Homo sapiens: one gene and its partners. The protein of the gene in region 1 purifies or fractionates together with the protein of each later gene. This does not show direct contact. Each region holds a gene or a part of one and is shown on either strand. Other genes may lie near its edges.

Region 1 (7,008 bases):
TGGGTACAAGCAATTCTCCTGTCTTAGCCTCCCGAGTAGCTGGGACTACAGACACACACCACCACACCCAGCTAATTTTTGTATTTTTAGTAGAGGTGGGGTTTCACCACATTGGTCAGGCTGGTCTTGAACTCCTGACCTCAGGTGATCCACCTGCCTTGGCTTCCCAAAGTGCTGGGATTACAGGCGTGAGTCACGGTGCCCAGCCGATAGTGACTTCTATAAGCAGTATATGTGTTTACTAATGTTTAATAGCATAATACTGGAAGAGTGTTTCCACCTCTTAATATGTCTCTGTATTTCTTCCCGAGATGGATCTGTAGATCACTAGCAAGACAAAATCCTCACCAGATGTTTTATGCCTCCCTTGAGTGCAAATTCTATGAAAAAACTGAAATAGTGTAAGGCAGTAAAAATAATTCTTTAAATATAAATACTGCATATTCTTTTATCTGGATTTCTGCTAATCTATTTACAGGTGTTTTAAAAAGCCACATTTTTTGTGACAACTCAGGGAGTTTTCCACCATTCTACTTTTTAACCAAGTTTGGCACTACAGGGCAGCACAAATAAGAAGCATTTGTATTTTTCTTTATGACTGCATAGCACTGTGGGTTTTCAAACAGGAAGACAAATATTGAATTTGAAATTCACTCCTTACCAGCTTTTTAATTTCATATGGCATTCTAATAAATTTTTTTTATAACTTAAATTTTAAAACCTTATGATGAGAAAGCAAGTTTTTTATTAAATTTACAAAGACTTCAACATCTAAATAATGGGAATAATAGCTGTACTTCATGTTTGAAATTAAACCGAGAAACAAGAACCTCAAATTTGAATTTAAGTAATTCTCCTAAACAAAACAAAGACTTCAATTGTTATTGCTTACCGCCTTCTCTTTTCTTTTCTGTTTAATCATATTGGAAAGTACTTTAGCTCGAGATTGTCCCTCTCTGTCCAGCAGATAGGCAGGTACTGCTCCCTGTGGTGTCTTTTCATCATTCTTTTGTTTGGTGTTTCTCTTTTCATGCATCTTGATACTACCAAGAAGGAAAAAAGATTCAAGATTATCTGTTTTAATAATGATTACTCAAAAGATGTTAACTTGTTATGACAAATAAATGAGACCACTTACGTCTTTTTCATTTGTATTTTCTCAGCATGACGCTGTTTATGGTAAAGCTTAGCCTTCAGACCAATCATTTTCTTTGCCTTCTTTGAACGTTCATGAGCCTCTCGACTTTCCTTCTTTCTCTTTTTCTCATGGTAATCCAAACGGTATCCATAGCGTTTACGGTGTAATTCAATATATTCATTCTGTGGCTATAATGATGGAAGAAATATTATTTTAATTTTTTAAAGTACTGACAATTATTCTAAAATGCTTTCTTTTACACAGCACAAAGACCCTGTTTCATCCAAATGTTCACTTACTTAAATGATTCTTGCACCATTAAGTTTATTCACATGATGTAAGTTAAATTTTGGTCTTGAATGATATGAGGCATCAGGGCTTACATCTCTAATAATCTCATTAGGGAATGGTCCAAAATCTACTGGACCACAAAAGGGATGAACTGATTACAGTATCTTTTTTCCTTGACATAATTTGCTTTTTTAATAACACCTTCATTTCACATTTAAAAAATTTAAGTCAGTTTTATTGAAGCATAATTTACACACAGTAAAACCTGTCCTTTTTAGGTATACAGTTCTAAGTTTTTCCTAACTACACAGTTCTGTAACCACCACAATCAAAATACAAAGAATTTCCATTTCCCCCTAAAATTCCCTATGTAACTTTTAAGTCAATCCTCTTTCCCAACCCTCAGTTTGATACCTATCCCTACAGTTTTGCCTTTCCCAGAATGAAACAGGGATCAACAGTAGTACATAGCCTTTTGAATCTGGTTTCTTGCTTTTGGGATTCACCCAATTTGCTGCAGGTATAGGAACTTCAATCCTTTTTATTGTTGAGTAGTATGCTATTGTATGGATACACCACTGTTTACCCGCTGACCAGATGATAGGTATCAGGGTTGTTCCCAGTTTTGGGTGATTACGAATAAATCTGCAATAAACAACTGCATGCAAGTCTTCATGTGGACGTGTGTTTACTGCCAGACCGTTTTCCAAAAGTGCATTATTTTTCTTTTCACCAGCAATGTATGGGATGCTTTTTGCATTTTAGACACGTTTTAAACACGCGGCCAGGCGTGAGTCTATTCGTATTTTAAGGCTGCAAAAATAAAAATGATACAAAGCCAAGTCCAGCACAGAGAGCAATGTTAAGTAACAACCAACAAGGTGTGCTGCTACCAACTGCTATCACATAAACTTTGCAGCAATCACATGAAGGGTGTATGGAATGCCATTTTGCAAAGAAACGCAGATTATAGAGACGTAACACAAAGAGAAAGGACCTGGCAGTTAGATCTGGGCCGTTAAGCCCGGCTTCGCAATTCATTAGCTGTCTGGTCTTTGGCAAGGACGCCTTCAGTTTCCTCAGCAGTAAAATGAAGGGGGCGGGACTGACATCTAAGACTGTACAAGGGACAACCATATTCCCATTAGGCTCTGGGGCTGATAACCACGCTTGTGGTGAAATCAGGAATTTTTAGGACTCTTAGCGGTGGATCAAAAAGAAAAAAGAAAACAGGACAGAGTAAAATCTTGCTCCAAAGCTTGTGTTCTGGCAAATACCGTCTGTGTCTCGAATGTGAAGTTGTTTCCACTCCTCAGAGCCCACCCCACGGGTCTACCATCCTTTTCTCTTGGCAGTTCTCATTTCCGCCTACCACCGCTCACCCCCTACCCCAGCGCCCCAGAGTCCTCAGGTCCCACTAACTCAGACGCTGTGTGTCGCGAGCGTCCGAGGCATCCTCCTTACCATGGTGACGGCCGCAGAGCCGCCAGGAGCAGCCGCTGGAGTGCGAAAACGCTCTCAATTTTCGGGTCTCAAAGACCCACAAGCCCACACCACGCAGGCCGGGACAGGAAAGAGTCACCCTTTAAAACGGCCGAGTGAAGAGCAAGAACCACGCAGCGGTTCCGAGCCTCTGTTTTCCGCTTTTAGCTAGGAGGACGGAAGTTGCTGGCAGGCGGCATTTGGCCGGTACACCGCCGGAAGTGTGGAGGTGTGGCTGCCCGAGGCGGTAGAGCGGAGAAAGCCTATTTTCTTTTCGTTTAGATACATTGCCTTTTGCCTAGGCTGGCGTCGAGACTTGAGGCCGTTGCAGACTTTGGCGCGGCTCGCGCCTCCTGCTTCAAGAGCCCAGCGGTGAGAGCTGGCCTGCGGCACGCGGCCTAATGCCAGGTGAGTACTGCTCCGAGCTGTGAGACATCGCGCGCCTGTGACCCTGTCACAGCGCTGGGTACCGCTGACCTTTCAGGCTGCGACGGACACAGCCAGCCACGGAAGAGGACAACAGGGCCTCCGGACTCCCCTCGGTGTTCGCTCAGTATGGAAGTTTTTCTCTATCATTCGGCGAAGTCGACTCATCTTTGTTCCGGTCACTCTGTGTAATGTGTGCATGATTGTGAAGGATACTGAGGAATGAAAACTTAGTGTACAGAAAAATGGAACTACTGGGGCTTTGCAGCTGTTAGAAAAGAAGAAGATAACATTCTGGTTTTTTGGAGGTACAGGACTGATTCCAGAAATTTCTGAGGCATTTTGGTGCACCGAATCAAATGCTGAGTGGACTTGTATTTAGTGGCCCCCTAGTGTCAAGAAGTAATTAACTACCAGAAAGTACGTCTACTTAAATACACTATCAGGTTTACCCTTTTACTGCACAGTTGCAGAAGTTCCCTTAATTACTTCACAGCTTGCAGCGTGATTCAGTTGATGAACAAAAAGAACTGTACCAAAAGAATACTTTCATTAATTCTTAGTGCTTGTATTTGAGGCAGTATTTTGTTTTTGTTTTTGTTTTTATGGGTATTTTGAGACGGCATCTCGCCCAGTCGCCCAGGCTGGAGTGCAGGGGCACGAGCTCGGCTCACCGCAGCCTCGACCTCCCGGGATCAAGCGATCCTCCGACCTCAGCCTCAAAAGTAGCGAGCTACAGGCTCGCGCCACGAAGCCTGGCTGATTTTTGTAGTTTTTGTAGAGATGAGGTTTCACCGTGTTGCCCAGGCTGGTCTCGAACTCCCGGGTACGAGCGATCCACCCGCCTCGGCCTCCCAAAGTGTTGGGATTACAGGCTTGAGCCACAGCGCCCGGCTTTGAGGCAGTTTTTGTTTTGTTTTGAGACGGAGTTTCAATCTTGTCGCACAGGCTGGAGTGCAAATGCGCCATCTCGTCTCACTGCAACCTCTGCCTCCCGGGTTCAAGCGATTCTCCAGGTTCAGCCTCCCAAGTAGCTGGAATTATAGGCGCTCGCCACCACACCCAGCTAATATTTTTGTATTTTTAGTAGAGATGGGGTTTCACCATGTTGGTCGGGCTGGTTTCGAACTCCTGACTTCAGGTGATCCACCTGCCTCGGCCTCCCAAAGTGCTGGAATTACAGGCGTGAGCCACCGAGCCCCGCCTTTGAAGCAGTTTTTTAAGGCTCCATTTTCTAAGGTGATCTCATCATTCTCTTTAAAACCAGAAATAGTAACTAGCATTTGTATATTTTAGGTACAGTACGTTATATAATCTCTTTGCCTTTAATGCGCCCCTCCCCGCCGTCCCTCAATCCCCCGAATTTCCTCCCTCATCTACTTCAGGTCTTTGCTTAAATGTCACTGTTTGAATGAGGCCTTCCTTGATCTCTTTACTTACAGTTCTAACTGTCCCAATTCCTCCTTCCTGCTTCATTCTTCTCTACAGCACCCTATCATCATGGGAGAGACTATGTATTGTATTCGTTACTTTTGTTTGTTGTCTGTATCCCCTGACTACGGTAGAGGCAGTATGAGGGCAGAGATTGTTGTCTTTTGTTCACTGCATTAACGCTGATATCTAGAAAGCAGTGGGTAGGCAGACACACAGTAAATTCTTGTTGAATAAATGGGAACGAATAGGCTTGGGCGGGGGAGGGCTGGGTTGTGCAAATTATCTTTTTATTGACAACCACTGAGTTAAAGAAGAGGAAAATGTCTATTACAGTCACAACTGTGGAGAGACTATGAGGCCCTGAACTTTGGCGTTACCAATGAAAAGGGAATGGATTCAAGGCCAGGCATGGTGGCTCACGCCTGTAATCCCAGCACTTTGGGAGGCCGAGGTGGGTAGATCACTTGAGGTCAGGAGTTCACGACCAGTCTGGCTAACATGGCGAAACCCCGTCTCTACTAAAAATACAAAAAGTAGCCAAGTGTGGTGGCACATGCCTGTAGTTCCAGCTACTCGGGAGGCTGAGGCAGGAGAATCGCTTGAACCCAGGAGGCAGAGGTTGCAGGGAGCTGAGATCAAGCCACTGCACTCCAGGCTTGGTGACAGGGCAAGACCCTGTCTCAAAAAAAAAAAAAAAAAAAAAAAAACAACAAAGGGAACAGATTCAAATATATTTAGGAAATCAAATGTAAGTATTAGATGACTTTCTAAATAAGAGTAGTGAATGTTTCTTAGCTAAGATCCAGAAAGAACAGACTTAGGAGTAGTAATGAGGTTTCACATATCTTAATAACATGGATCACAATGGTTTAACACAGGGGTGTCTAATCTTTTGGTTTCCCTGGGCCACACTGGAAGAATTGTCTTTGGCCACACATAAAATCACTAATGATAACTAACAATAGCTGATGAGCTAAAAAAAAATAAAAAAAACCTCATAATATTTTAAGAAAGTTTACGAATTTATGTTGGGCTGCATATAAAGATATCGTGGGCCGCATGTGGCCTGCAGGCCACGGGTTGGACAAGCTTGGTTTAACATGGTCTGTCTGTCTCCCCAGCATCCCCAGTCTCAGCTGCGTCCTTATATTTCTAATAGCTTTGATATTGTACTTGAAACATAGTGAATATTTAGCAAATGTTTTTAAACTAAAGATGCTTAGTTTCTATAATCAGAGAGGAAGAGGACTTGCTTTTATATATTTTTTACATGATTTAGTTTTTACATGGTATGGTAGGAAAATCAGAGTATACAAATGAATCAATAAATTTTACTGCCAATTAGAAATTACCAAGTTAATATGTGGATGCTTAGCTTTTTATGCTTAATTCTATACATTTACATAACAATGCATTTTGGTTGATACAATGTTTTGTAATTTCAATAAGTTGATTTCTACTGTATCGCCATATCTTTCTTTAAACATTACATTGACAAATAAGGGACATTTTAAACCTAAAAACCATATTTCTCATATTTAATCAGAATTTTCCATTTTCTGAATGATGCATTGAATTTTTGGTAGCTAAAAATATTGTTCCAACTTTTTAAAAGTAATACATTTTACCATACATATTACATATGTCTAACTTACATATGCCTTGCTGACATGTAATACATAAGTTTAGTTTTTTGATTTTGTATATTTATTTTTTCAGACAGTAACAGTTTGGAGGATCAAGATGTTGACCAACTTGAGGATATTTGCAATGAGTCATCAGACAATACCCAGTGTGTATATTAATGTAAGCATTTCTTATAAAATTAAGTGTCCTTTAACAACCTCAGCTCCTTTACTGCCTAAAATGCCCAGTATATCTCATCAGCTGTTGATTCCAAATTTAGTTGAGTCATAACCTTTGGAAATCTTCAAGCTAAACTAATTTGAAAGTAATTACCTTAATTTATTAAGAAATATAAGAGGAAATTACCTTAATTTAAAAGTAAAAGAACAGCTGTAGCTAAATACTGGTCTCATGGAGTACTAAAATGCCAGTTGTTTTTGAAGGAGGGGTAGGGTTTTATATCTAAGAATGTCATCACTTAATGCACATCTTTAAACTACTAACAAATAATGTGCTTTGTAATATTAAGTATCCATGGATTGAGACTCTTATGAAATAAAGTTTCTGTTAATATCAAAGTACAACATAATTATACAATGGTTGATACAACT
Region 2 (7,460 bases), on another chromosome or scaffold:
ACCCAGTGCAAAGAGTCAGCACTTCTCTTTAATAAGGATCCGATCCCCAGGATTCCTAAATCCAATGTATCTAGCCACACAATATTACTTGACCTTTTTTCTTGAACACTTTGATTAATTCAACAATTTGATTAACTCAATATTATTTCATACAAAGGTTGTTAGGGATACTTGGGTGCTGAGGATAATGAACAAGATACTGTCCCTTCCTTCACGGAATTCAGGGTCCAGTGACAGAAGTAAACAGGTGGGCACAACACAGTCTGCCAAGTATTGTACTATGAGGGGCACGCCCAGTCTCCCCTCTGGGCCTACAAGTGAGACAAGTAAATGGGTGGTCACAACAGTCTGCCAAGTACTATAAGGGGCACACACTGTCTCCCCTCTGGGCCTACAAGTGAGACAAGTAAACGGGTGGTCACAACAGTCTGCCAAGTACTATGAGGGGCACACACGGTCTCCCCTCTGGGCCCACACAAGATCTTCTCTACGTTCTTCTGCACCTAATGCCGTTCGCACATCCTGAAGGGGGACCAAGTCAAAGGTTACCTACTTCATAAGGTTCCCCCTGACTCTCCAACTTACCACAGCTAACCACACTCTTCTCCTCTCCCAATCCATGTGTGTCCTCCATGATAACAATGTTTTATTTCTAGTATGGTCATACGAGATATGACTTACCCCACTTTTTTTTTTTTTTTTTTTTGAGATGGAGTCTTGCTCTGTTGCCCAGGCTGGAGTGCAGTGGCGCGATCTCGGTTCACTGCAAGCTCTGCCTCCTGGGTTCAGTTCACACCATTCTCCTGCCTCAGCCTCCCCAGCAGCTGGGACTACAGGCGCCCGCCACCACGCCTGGCTAATTTTTCTGTATTTTTAGTAGAGACGGGGTTTCACCGTGTTAGCCAGGATGGTCTCGATCTCCTGACCTCGTGATTTGCCCGCCTCAGCCTCCCAAAGTGCTGGGATTACAGGCGAGAGCCACCGCACCCGGCCTCGACTTACCTCTCTTGAAAATGACTTCCAAAGAGGCAGGTATTTTATCTAATGCATTTTTGTAACACAGTACCCGATGCACAGGACAGGCACTCACTCAACATCTTCTAGAATGAACTGAATACCACACTTTCCCGATGTGATTTTTTTTTTTTACTTCCAATCACCAAACAATTACCATCACCCAGTTTTTAGATAAGTCATCTGTTCTCTAAAAATATAAATCTCACTCCACAGAACAGAAGACGGATGGTGTATAATATATTCTAAAGTTCTCCACATAAGTCAATAACATGAACAAAGTTCATATAATCCAAAGAGCAAATTCCTTCAACAAACCTGAGAGATGGTTGACCAAAAATACAAATAAGACATGACTCCTGCACTCGAAAATACTACAATCTGGCTGGGCACAGTAGCTCATGCCTGTAATCCTAACACTTTGGGAGGCTGAGGCAAGTGAATCACTTGAGATTAGGAGTTCAAGACCAGTCTGGCCAACATGGTGAAACTCCACTTCTACTGAAAATACAAAAATTAGCCAGGCCTGGTGGCGCATGCCTGTAGTCCCAGCTACTCGGGAGGCTGAGGCAGGAAAATCACTTGAACCTGGGAGGCGGTGGCTGCAGTCAGGATCACACCACTGCGCTCCAACCTGGCCAACAGAGCGAGACTCCATCTCAAAAAGAAAGAAAGAAAATACTACAATCGATCAAGAGATGTGCCAGAACAACTGTCAGGAAGAAATAAGAAATGGTGGAGAGAAGTGGGGAAACAACTTTTGCTATGAAGGTAAAATACGAGACTCCCACAAAGCTTTCCAAGGCAAGCTCATCCCGTCCTTGAGACCTGAAGAAAAGGAGGCACTGACGAGGGGAAAACAGTCACTCTGCAGGGACTTCAGTAACTCCCTCTCGTGCAGGAGTCCCTGGGAGGCTCCAGTTGCCCGTCAATGTCTGTGTAATTGCGACCCAAATCGAATGTTCACTACATAAAAACGTGACTTCTTAAAAGTCCTAATACTAGGGCCGGGCGCAGTGGCTCACGCCTGTAATTCCAGCACTTTGGGAGGCCGGGGCGGGAGGATCACCCGGGATCAGGAGTTCGAGGCCAGCTTGGCCAACGTGGTGAAACCCCGTCTCTACTAAAAATACGAAAATTAGCTGGGTGTGGTGGTGCACGACTGTAATCCCTGTTACTCGGGAGGCTGAAGCAGGAGAATCGCTTGAACGCGGGAGGTGGAGGTTGCAGTGAGCCGAGACTGCGCTCCAGCCTGGGAAACAAGAGCGAAAAACTATGTCTCAAAAAAAAAAAAAAAAAAAAAAAGTCCTAATACTCAACACTTGTTGACTCATTCTTGCCACACCAACCAACGCTGTAAAAATTTAGTCTGGGCCTACTATGGTCTGAAAAGGAACAGGTATTCCCAAATCTAACAGTGAAAGAGAATGACTTAAAAATTATGAAACGTTAAATCACGAGAACAACGAACCCAGGATTCCTGAGAGGGGAGGGGGCTACGCCAAACCCAGAATCCGAAGGCTCATCACGGACCACGGAACGCTTCCTCCCTCACATGTCGGGGTCCCCCTCCACTCGCCCACATCGTCACCCGGGGCCCCTCCAGGGAACCCAACTCTGGGTGTACCCCCATCTCTGGGGGCCCTCAGTCTTTGGGTGGACCACGGTCTTAGGTGGACCCCGGTCTCTGGGGGATCCGATCTCTGGTGGACCCCGGATTCTGCTGGGGGAGGGGAAATGATCCCGAGTACGCGGCCAGACGGTCAGGCCCAGGAGCGGGGGATGGGCGAGCGGAAGGCGACCGCTCTCCCACGGCTACAGGCCCGGACCCTCCCCGGGGACCCAGCTGAGGAGAACGCGAAAGTTGCAGTGGCCCTCCCGGGGCCGCCTACCTTGGCGGACGGCACCACCGTAATTTTCTTGAAGTTGTAATGTGCCATGCCGGCAGCCGTATGCACGCGGGTACTTGGCACTCCCGGAACTTCCGCCGTCGGGCGCAGGTGGGACTTCCACTGTCGGGCGGTTGAGGTACGTCACTTCCGGGAGCTCAGCCAATCGTGTTCTGCGTGCTCTACGGCGCTTTCCGCGTCGCACAGCGCACCCGCCCGGCTTGGAGGTCAGCCACGGAGGGCGTGTGAGGGCCTCAGGAGCGAGGGTACAGAGGAGAGGACGCCCGGGTTTTAGGGGGAGCGCGGAGACTAAATTCCTGCTGAGTAAAGCGGGGGTTTCCGACAGACTGCCCTGCGGGTTTCTGGAGCGGGTTCAGGCCCCCAGCCACGCGCCCTGGGCCAGGGTTGGAGGGTCCGGGGTCTTGGGATTTGGGAGTTGCGGGGCTTAGGAGTCCAGAGGGTCTAGGGGATCCGGGAGTCTGGGGGTCCTGGGTCGCGGCGAGCCCCGCAAAGGAGGAGGAAGCCGCGCGTGCGGGGCGTGCCCAGCCTCTGGGTGTGGAGCAGATGACGCCCCTACCCCGGCCTCGCGCGTGGGACTTGATCCCGGGCCGTGGTGAGGAGGCCCTCGCGGCTTCCCTGCAGCCCTGCTTTCTCGTGCTTGTTAAATCCCAAAACGGGCGGAGAAGGGAAAGCCTGATCTAAGGCAAAAGAGGTGCAGCTGGTTCCGCGCAGTGCCTTAGGAGAGCCCAGGGAACAGTTGCGAGAGACAGTCCTGTGGGGTCCAACTGAGGAGAAGGTTGATGAGGATGGAGCCTTTACTGCTTTTATGTTTGTGAATAGAGTGGCCGCTCCCTTTGGGAACCCAGGGCCACATCCCTTAAATTAAACGTTAGGTAGGGCTGACTCAGTCAAGCAGTGTTCAGAGCTGCTGACTATATATTAACTCGTTTAATTTCTGCAACAGCCTCATGAAGTGCATGGGGAAACAAAGGCACACAAGGCTCGAAAGCACCCCGTGGTTGTGCAGCTGACAAGCTAACAGGCAGCAGAGGTGGGCTTTGAACCCAGGCAGCCTGGCTCCAGCAAACCTGCTTCTAACCATTAGCTATACTGCTTCTCACGCATCTGGGATGCCCCCCACTCTCCAATCCTTTTAAACAAGTCCTATTATTCTTACGCGAAAATACCTCTCATAAATTCCCAGCATTCCAATATTGAAAATCATTCTGGGTCATGCTTTTCTCATCTATTAACTATGCTTCCATTTTTGTGTCACAAGGCGGATAAGCATACCTCCTACATCTTTGTGGCACTTCTAAAGGAAGCTTCTAGGGTAATTAGGATTTGCTGGCTATGATCATTTGCTAAACCACAGGACAGTTCTGGCCACCATTTCCGAGATTAGCAAAGCTATGCTCATACTTATTGCCCTTTCTTTTAGGTTCTTGTATGTTTCCTCAACCTCTCCCACTTTCTCTCACTCTGATATAGCCAGTTCCTCTTTTTCTTGTAATCCGGTATTTAGATAAGTCCAGTCAATACTTTGCTTCAGATGGGCAAACATCCTTTCTTTAATTTTTTTTTTTTTTTTGAGACGGAATCTCACTCTGTCGCGCAGGCTGGAGCGCAGTGGCGCCATCTCAGCTCACTGCAACCTCCGCCTCCAGGGTTCAAGCCATTCTCCTGCCTCAGCCTCCCAAGTAGCTGGGATTACAGGCACCTGCCACCACTCCCGGCTAATATTTTGTATTTTTAGTAGAGACAGGGTTTTACCATATTAGCCAGGCTGGTCTCAAACCCTGACCTCAAGTGATCCACCCACCTTGGCCTCCCAAAGTGCAGAGATTACAGGCATGAGCCACCTGCTTTTAACTTGTTCAGCTACAAAGGCATGTCTGTGAATGCACAACCATAATGACTCATCATGGGCCCAGAGCTATAACAATGATAAGGTACCAAGCATCTTACACCATGTGCGTGTTGATGAGAATCAACATCCTTGCCTGTTCTTGTGATTTTGTGGCAGAGTATAGCTTCTTGGGGGCAAGTATGTATTCTACACCACTAGGAGCAAGCTTCTTTATCATACACTTCTGGGCTTCTCTGGGGAAGCCAAACTCTAAAGGCCTTTTCTGAGGAGTGTCGCAAATGCTGCCTGCAGTACGAGGCACATTGCCAGTTCCTGACTGCATTAGCAGGTTCCAGCTGCCAGGACGCCTCTGAGTGTGTACCTTGTGACAGAAAGGTACTTCTCAGCTGTAGTAAAGGATGCTCTCAAGGGTACTCTGCAAAGCTTCTGACTGCGAGGCACTTCTCAGTAAAAAGCTTTGTTTTTCAGACCTTTTTATTTTGTGGGTTTGGTCTTTTCTGTTTTACCTTCTCGTTGCTGTAATTCTGATGGATGAAAGGTACATTTTGCAGAACTGAACTTCCTGCCTGAAAGGAGCCTTTACATGGGGATTAGCCATCAGTAGGCATCCGGTCTTAGAGGGTCCTATGAGTGCTCCATTGGGCCCGTCGGCCACTTCCCTGGATCCCCACAGGAACTCATTCAGAACGAGTCACATGCTGCTTTGTACCTAGATGCTTCCTTGTGTACATCTTGTTTCCAAAAGAAGTAGCCAGCTCTTCGTGGACAGGAACTGTGTCTTACTTTTTTGCCATCCCTCACCTCAGGCAGCACTGCCAAGAGCATTCACAGTGACTGTGGAACTCCGTTGATTGAATGTTGGCTTGAGTAAGTTCCTGATGTAGGGGCTGTAGCGGTTGGAATCAAGCTTCTGCAATACTCAAGTAGTCCTACTGAATTACAGTACTGTCAGACCCCCTCTGCACAACCCTGAAGTGGGTCAGAACTCCACACTGTGCCATAAAGAGGAAAGCTGTCAACAGGGAGGTCTAAGGAAACACCTCCTTAGGTGGAAGGCAGCAATGGCATGAGAGCCACCCTCCGGGCCAAAGGTGCAGCCTGACATTCTCTGCAGAATTACACAGTGAGTTAAGACTGTGAGCTTCATTTCTGAGATACAGCTCCACCCGCTGTGATCCTGGGAAAATGTCTCAGCTTCCCCAAGCCTCTGTTTCTTCACTCTTTGCTCACTTACTATCTACCAGGCATGTTAAAAATACTTTATGTGAATTATTTTAGCTTTTCACTAACCCTATTCTACAGGCATTAATAAGTGAGCAAAGAGATTGTGTATTATTAATTATGCATTATGTATTATCTATGTTCTTATTAGCTGCTTAGTTACAATAATATTTGCTAAACTTTTGTTCTATTCATTAAATTATCGTTGAACCTTAACAACTGCAATGCAGGGAGCCTCCACCATGTGCCAGGTCACTTGCTTTCTTCTCGGGACAGCATAGTGAGGTGGGTGTGATTGTCTCTGTTTCACAGACAAGAGTGCTGGCTTTGAGGTGGTTGAGTGCTTGCTCACCGTCACACAGCTGGAGAGACACAATGAGGTGCGTTCAGGGCGCATGGAACTCCAAAGCCACTCTCCTTTTGCACTGCCAGCCGAGAGTGGCTTTGTTCTTGACCTCTGTAGAGTTATTACCTTGTTTGGTATTTGTTTGTTTGTTTATTTATTTATGAGACAGGGTCTCACTCTGTCGCCTAGGCTGGAGTGCAATGGTGTGATCTTGGCTCACTGCAACCTCCACCTCCCAGGTTTAAGCAATTCTCAGATTTAAGTGCCTCAGCCTCCCGAGTAGCTGGGACTACAGGTACATGCCACCACACCTGGCTACTTTTTGTATTTTTTAGTAGAGGGGAGATTTCGCCATGTTGTCCAGGCTGGTCATGAATTGTTTGGTATTTAAATGGAGGTACATGATGGATTGCACTTGGGGTCATATGCTGTCAATAATCCCCCAGCACCTGTGTTTCACTAAAGCACTGTTTGCATATGCAGACAGGTTGTGTTTCTTCTGTGAGAATTCCGTTCCTGTGCGTGGATCATGACAGGCACCTGTGCTAATGAACTTCTGCCCTTGCTCACGTCAGAGCTGCTGATAAGGGGTGTTTCTATGGGTTGAGTACGAGTCATTCTATTGACACACTGTTAAAAACATTCTTTGCATTCTGCTGTTCCATAAAGGAACAATTTTAGGTTTAATGGAAATCTTGCGATCTCTTTTCCTAGAGAAGATTTGTGATAATAATCATACACGTATTTGGAATGCATGTACTTATGCTTGTATGATCAATTTCCAAATGATTCTAAATATCTGCAGGCAGAATTTCTTAAGATTAGCATTCTGTGCTGTACCCAAAAAGATACTCGAGATAAGCAAAGACAAGTTTCATGTTGCAACAGACATCTGAATCCTTAGTGTTTCTGGAAGCTGGTTAAGCAGGTGGTTGTGATGTCTGACCCTCAGGTTAAAAACAGTGAAAAAAATTCACTTTGATGATGTGACGTCATTGTCACAAGTTTAATAATTGATTTTGAAGGTCTGCACAAGGAAACCATAATGCTTTAGCAATTTCCGTTTTCCAGAGGGAGGAGGCTTAAAATTTCAATTCCAGCCCTGCCACCAACTTCTAGA
Region 3 (7,025 bases), on another chromosome or scaffold:
GGCGTGGTGGTGGGTGCCTGTAATCCCAGCTACTCGGGAGGCTGAGGCAGAAGAATGCTTGAACCTGGGAGGTGGAGGTTGCAGTGAACTGAAATCGCGCCACTGCACTCCAGCCTGAGCGACAGAGCGAGACTCTGTCTCAAAAAACAACAAAAAAGAAAGCACTGGTACTTCATGTAACAAATTATGATTTGCGTATGTCTGTACCTTTACAACATTACTGGCACTTGTATAAAGGAGATTCCTTGTCAAGGACTGAATCAAGGAACTTAACACCCTATTCCAGAAAAACAAGTATGCAATACTAGTAGAAGGAAGAAGAAAGCTTCTGTTTTCCTAGGCACAAGGCCTGTCTTCAAGAAACTTTCAAAACAAGTAGTTAGGCTTTGGCTGGCTTCTACACCATCTGCAAACGCCCAGGGCCTTCATGCAACCTTTAGCTACCTAGGGCTACCCAGTACCCTAAAGTGCCCTGCACCTTAAAACTCACCTGTTTTCTCCTTTTTCATTTCTGCCCCTATCAAAACTTCTTTTCTGCCAGGTGCAGTGGACCAACATCTGTAGTTCCGGCTGCTCAGGAAGGTGAAGTGGGAGGATCACTTGAGCCCAGGAATTTGAGTCCAGCCTGGGCAACACAGCAAGACCTCATTGCTTTAAAAAAAAAAAGTAGGGCTCAGTGGCTCATGCCTGTAATCCCAGCTACGTAAGAGGCTCAGGCAGGAGGATTACTTGAGCCCAGGAGTTCAGGGCTGCAGTGAGCTGTGATTGTGCCACTGCACTCCACCCTAGGTGACAGAACAAGACCCCATCTCTTAAAAACAAACCAACCAAAAAACACAGGTTTCGTCTCAGAGAAGCGGGGTGGGCTCTACTTAGTAGTAGAGTCTCTTAAAACAATCAACAGTAGTGTAATTTATCAATAATCAGATAGCAGACATCCCTCTCAGAGATCTATATATTTTCAGCCACAAAGCTTAAAATCTCAAATGTCAACGAGTAGGATTTCAGGCAAAATAAAAGTAGAAAATAAAAATCAGAATGTAGATCCATGTTGGGAGAGGAGGTTAACTTTCCAGGTAATTCATACTGAGATTGTTTACACAGCTCCTGCGGGTCCGGCTTTCTGTGGCTTTCTTTAGCTAAGGCCAGAAATTCAAAAAAATCCCAATGGTTATGGAGATCCCTCCTCACCCATCCATCCACCCAATGAGAAAGAAGAATTTGTGGAGGGCAGGGGATATCACAAGAGAAAATGGCACACCAGGGTGTAATGTCTCAAATAAAAGGCTTACTTTACACTTAATACTAGTATATTACTGTTCATAATAATATATCGTAAAATTATCATGTTATAAAAATATATAATAAGATCTTATAAGAAACTCTGAATGGATTGACGCTTGATAATTCTCTTAAGTAGAACACAATGAAACAGTAGTGGCTGGCTAAGTTCCATCAATTTTTTTTAATTCTTTTTGACTTTTTCTCGTGGTCTTCTGTTATCCTTTCTGCAGGTCGCTTCTTCAACCCCTTCATTTTCCTGGTTTGTAGTTTGCTTAGGTCTTGCTTCTGCATATGAATCCTTCCATAAGTTGTACCAAAAGTATCATGGGAAATATTTTTCTTCTTCTTTGGCTACGATAAAAGAATATGTATATATTTAATGGCCTTCTACTATAATGAGCCAGTAAAAATCTAGTCTGTAACAACTATCTTAGTAGCAATTTCCATTAGTGCCTGCCCCTTCAGTGACACAGTATATAGCCCTATACACTTTTCTTCTCAAACTTAAGTGTGCATACAAATCACTTGGGATCTTGCTAAAATACAGATCCTAATTCAGTATGTCTAGGGTAGGGCCTGATATTCTGCACAATTCCCAGGTAAACTGTCAGGCCACACTTTGAAAAACAAAACTATAAACTACACTAACCACTGTCACACATCAAGAAAATAGCCTGTGTTTAGCTTAAGAAGTTGTGACTATTGTTTCAATTTCTATTGGCATTTTAGAGATTACATTTCTTCTTGTCTTTTAAAACTACTTAAAAAGTCAAAACACATTTTATGCACATATGGTTTATATACCCTGTACTCTAAATCCTTAGCCTTTACAGTGTACCAAACAACTCTCTTTCTTTTGCTGAAAACAACAGTCTTGACTATCAGAAGGCACTTAGCCAAACCTCATGTCTGGGTTTTGCAACTCTTTTTTTATTATCCCTTATTGTTGGCTTATTTGGTTCTCTCTCCTTTTCCTGGCTCTGTGAGTCCTAGTTTAATCTATTGTATTGATCTCTTTATATATGTCCTTGTCTTTTTTTTTTTTTTTTGGCTCACTCTGTCACCCACGCTGGAGTGCAATGGCGTGATCTCTGCTCACTGCAAGCTCCACCTCCCCGGTTCACGCCATTCTCCTGCCTCAGCCTCCCAAGTAGCTGGGACTACAGGCGCCCGCTACCACGCCCAGCTAATTTTTTGTATTTTTCATAGAGACGGGGTTTCACTGTATTAGCCAGGATGGTCTCGATCTCCTGACCTTGTGATCCACCCACTTCGGCCTCCCAAAGTGCTGGGATTACAGGCGTGAGCCACCGCGCCTGGCCTGTCCTTGTCTTTTAATATAATATGCCACAAATTCTTTTTGGAAAGAAAAAGGATTAAAGTAGAAAATACAAATAAATGTGGTACCAAGCTCTAAGTTATATACCTTGAGAGCTTTTGGCATTTTCATAGATAATTTATAAAGGTCATCCGATGCCAGGTGTGTCCTCCTCAGAACCAGATCCAATGAGGGTCCCATCTCTTCCAATTCAATCCGTGGTGTTCTGCAACCAGATTTCTTCAACAGCAACCTTTAGGAAATAGGTAAAAAGAAATGTTGCTTTGACTTTCATAAAAGTCCTCTCCACCAAATATTTTTTGTTCAGGGGATTTACAATTCCATTAAATGATATAAAATGTTTAGAAAGACTTACTTAAATACTTAATACTATTCAAGCCAAGTATATCCTTTGGTTCACATCTTCTTTTATAAATTTTTTTTTTTTTGAGACGGAGTCTCGCTCTGTCCCCAGGCTGGAGTGCAGTGGCGCGATCTTGGCTCACTGTAAGCTCCACCTCCCAGGTTCACGCCATTCTCCTGCCTCAGCCTCCCGAGTAGCTGGGACTACAGGCACCCGCCACCACACCTGGCTAATTTTTTTGTATTTTTAGTAGAGATGGGGTTTCACCGTGTTAGCCAGGATGGTCTCGCTCTCCTGACCTCATGATCCTCCTGCCTCGGCCTCCCAAAGTACTGGGATTACAGGCATGAGCCACCATGCCCGGCTTTTCTTTATAAGTCTTTTATCCCTTTTTGAGCTAAAGGGTCACACAAATATCAAATTAAAAATTTTTTTTTTCTCTTTGAGGTCAAGGGCAGTTTGCTTATTTTTAAAAATCAGAAATAAAATTATACAATATTATTGAGAAACAGCAAGTGAGATACAAAATTATTCTCAGAAATGAAATAAAATCCTTTGATTTGACTTCTTCATCTTACTCATAGATTTATGTATGTATAAAAGTAATTATAATTGGCTTTTTCTTTGAAACAGTATGTTTATACGATTAACAAGTTCTTATCTAAGACTGTAGGAGTTAAACCAACCCATTCAGAATCAACTTTTCCTCATAGCACAGACATTTACTAACTTCCTTACATTGAAGTGAACTTTAAAATCTTAAAATAACAAAACCACAACTTTCTGAATACCCTATGTCTAAACAGCTCTGGATCTGGAAACACTGGTGGAGGAGAACTGGGGAATACAGGCAGGATAAAGTGATGGTGGAGCAGCCAGGCGTGGTGGCTCACGCCTGTAGTCCCAGCACTTTGGGAGGCTAAGGCAGGCAGATCACCTGAGGTCAGGAGCTCCAGACCAGCTGGCCAACATGGTGAAACCTCATCTCTACTAAAGACACAAAAAATTAGCCAGGCGTGGTGGCACATGCCTGTAGTCCCAGCTACTCGGGAGGCTGAGGCAGGAGAATCGCTTAAACCCAGGAGGCGGAGGTTGCAGTGAGCCGAGATCGCGCCACTGCACTCCAGTCTGGGCGACAGGGCGAGACTCCGTCTCAAAAACAAACAAACAAAAAAAGAAATCAGGGACATGTATTTTAATTTTCAACTAAAATTTTTTCTTCCACTTAAAACTGCTAATTTTCAGCTAGTTAGAAAACTTGTCAATTCAAAACAGCTCATGGCATATCCGATAGATTCAAATCACCCAAGTACTACTATACACTGCCAAAAGCACCTTTTAATTAACTGAAGCACCTTTTAATTAACTAAAAATAATTTTTAAAATTGATGCATAATAGATGTACATAGTTTCAGGGTGCATATAATAATTTAATATTGTGCCTTTTTATTCACAAGCGTCCTAATGAATTTTTTGAGTGGTACATAAAATTAAGATTTCCAAATAACTATGTATAATTACCTATGTTGTTATTTCATTAAAGAATTAAGTACAATGTCATACTTTTCTGTGTAGATGATCTGATCTTAATCATTTCAGTGAGTATGTTTACTGGAAGATCAAACTGATTTAAGGAAATATTCTCTAGCTTTTAGTTATCTGCAAACAGAACCCAGTTCTTTCTCTCTCAGATGGGCTCAAGCTGGTAGATATGCTAACTGGTAATTTCTACATATTTTTAAATATTATTTGTCTATTTCTTGAGGAAGAGTGACATTACCACTACTGTTCAAATTGTAATTTCCTCATTTTTCTCCCTCTCATACACTTCTCTGGCTGAAAGTCTGTTTTCATTAAGTAAACTCCTCAATTAGAATGTTATGTTTGCTTTTCAAAGTATGCTACCACTTTGTTTTGCATATTTCCCCCCATAAGGCCTAACCATTGTGCAAAGGCACATGTGGCATTACTAACGATTTTGTTTCATATTAATGGCTCTGACTCCATAGTGAATAAAATTTCCCAACGGATATAAATAGTCACTCACATACAAGGAATAATTACTATAGGATGTATAGGAACAGTGGTCAATAACACTATGATTTATTCACCCAAAAGATCATGTTAAAGGTTATATTAATATAATTTCCTGTTTAGAGTTCCTTTCATCCAAAAAGCTCAAAACCATTTTATAAACCTCATTTATCTTCACAAATAAAGTGTGTGAATATTAAATATTACCATTTTCAAATTGCATAAGGGCTAATTTGCAGTAAGAGCGAGGGAAAGGGTTCCACAGTATAGCTAGCCCAAAGAATGCCTGGGGAGCCAAGTTAAGTCAGACATACTTTCTGGTATATGCCCATCTATGAGTACCCCTTTACTCTTATAAAGCAGTACTGTCAATCTTAGGGGGACCTCAGAATTATCTAAATGGTATTGCTATAGTTTACAGAGGAAGAAACAAAGACCCTGAGAAGTGGTGACCTGCCCATGTCACGTGGCTGAGCCCAGCTCAGAGCCAGGTCAGTAGGCTCAGAGGTGATGCTGAATCCCTGGACCACCCCTTCCTCCCATCCTCAATGCTCCCCAAGTGTGGCACAGCCTCTGGAAGCTAAGCTGATCCACATGTTTAGTGATTCTTTCAAGTAGCAGCTCACTCTCAATCACAGTGTCCATTTTTTATTTCAAATTAATAGCTAACAAGTATTACAAGGCACATATGGAACATCTAGTGATCAAAATTACATACTAGGGTCTCTGATTTTAAAATTTCAAACTTTTTTTCATTATGAAAGATGTCGTGCTAGTGTAAAGGTGATTCTAGCAATCAGATTTTTGGTGGATCTATGTATTATAGTTACACTGCTAGTTTTTTATTTTTGTTTTTATTTTTATTTTTTTGAGACAGAGTCTTGCTCTGTCACCAGGCCGGAGTGCTGTGGCACAATCTAGGCTCGCTGCAATCTCCGACTCCGTGGTTCAAGCAATTCTCCTGCCTTGGCCCCCTGAATAGCTGGGATTACAGGCATGCGCCACCATGTCCAGCTAATTTTTTGTATTTTTAGTATAGATGATGTTTCACCGTGTTAGCCAGGATGGTCTCGATCTCCTGACCTCGTGATCTGCCCACCTCAGTCTCCCAAAGGGCTGCTGGGATTACAGGGATGAGCCACCGTGCCCGGCCTTACTGCTAGTTTATTCTTTTTTTTCTCTTTTTTTGAAATGGAGTCTCGCTGTCACCCAGGCTGGAGTGCAGTGGTGCGATCTTGGCTCACTGCAACCTCTGCCTCCCGGGTTCTCCTGCATCAGCCTCCTGAGTAGCTGGGATTACAGGTGCACACCATGTTGCCCGGCTAATTTTTATATTTTTAGTAGAGACGGGGTTTCACCATGTTGGCCAGGCTGGTCTCAAACTCCTGACCTCAGGTGATCCACCCATCTTGGCCTCCCAAAGTACTGGATTACAGGCATGAGCCACCACGCTGGGCCAGTTTATTCTTGCTCTAAAGTCTGACTTGATAATTCTCTATTTTGTTTTATTTTCTCTGTATCTTTCTTTACAAATAAACCCTTTTCACTAAATACAAGTGAATACTTTCTGCGAAACCGTTCAACACAGAAGAGTTTTAGGCTACTGTTACCACTCATTTCTTACTGTCAATGATTTTTTACCGTTATATTTTTATCTCCCTTGTATCCCCTCTATGTTTAACACAGAGGGCATACATACCCACCCGAGGCAGGAGAATCGCTTGAATGCGGGAGGCAGAGGTTGCAGTGAGCTGAGATGATGCCACTGTACTCCAGCCTGGGCAACAGCAAGATCCTGCCTCAAAAAAAGAAGTGTTCCAGGTCAGGCGCGGTGGCTCATGCCTGTAATCTCAGCACTTTGAGAGGCCAAGGCAGGTAGATCACGAGGTCAGGAGATTGAGACCATCCTGACTAACATGGTGAAACCCTGTCTCTACTAAAAATACAAAAATAAAATTAGCCGGGCGTGGTGGCGGGTGCCAGTAGTTCCAGCTACTTGGGAGGCTGAGGCAGGAGAATGGCATG

Evidence for each region.
Region 2: the proteins of NSA2 (region 1) and GTPBP4 purify together in Homo sapiens (affinity purification with mass spectrometry; 5 studies listed by BioGRID and IntAct, with this or other methods). This does not show direct contact.
Region 3: the proteins of NSA2 (region 1) and RPF2 purify together in Homo sapiens (affinity purification with mass spectrometry; 4 studies listed by BioGRID and IntAct, with this or other methods). This does not show direct contact.

Annotation. Positions count from the first base shown.
Region 1 is NC_000005.10:74,763,249-74,770,256, reverse strand, and holds the start of NSA2 (ribosome biogenesis protein NSA2 homolog), read right to left. Parts: upstream 3,009-7,008; 5' UTR 2,897-3,008; coding exon 2,894-2,896; intron 1,327-2,893; coding exon 1,139-1,326; intron 1,044-1,138; coding exon 893-1,043; intron 1-892. Other genes in the region: GFM2 (ribosome-releasing factor 2, mitochondrial), read left to right, coding at 5,151-5,222, 6,491-6,577. UniProt on the Homo sapiens protein: Involved in the biogenesis of the 60S ribosomal subunit. May play a part in the quality control of pre-60S particles.
Region 2 is NC_000010.11:983,974-991,433, reverse strand, and holds the start of GTPBP4 (GTP-binding protein 4), read right to left. Parts: upstream 3,001-7,460; 5' UTR 2,955-3,000; coding exon 2,907-2,954; exon of another isoform or gene 2,486-2,906; intron 1-2,485. UniProt on the Homo sapiens protein: Involved in the biogenesis of the 60S ribosomal subunit. Acts as a TP53 repressor, preventing TP53 stabilization and cell cycle arrest.
Region 3 is NC_000006.12:111,020,013-111,027,037, reverse strand, and holds part of RPF2 (ribosome production factor 2 homolog), read right to left. Parts: intron 2,856-7,025; coding exon 2,711-2,855; intron 1,636-2,710; coding exon 1,456-1,635; 3' UTR 1-1,455. UniProt on the Homo sapiens protein: Involved in ribosomal large subunit assembly. May regulate the localization of the 5S RNP/5S ribonucleoprotein particle to the nucleolus.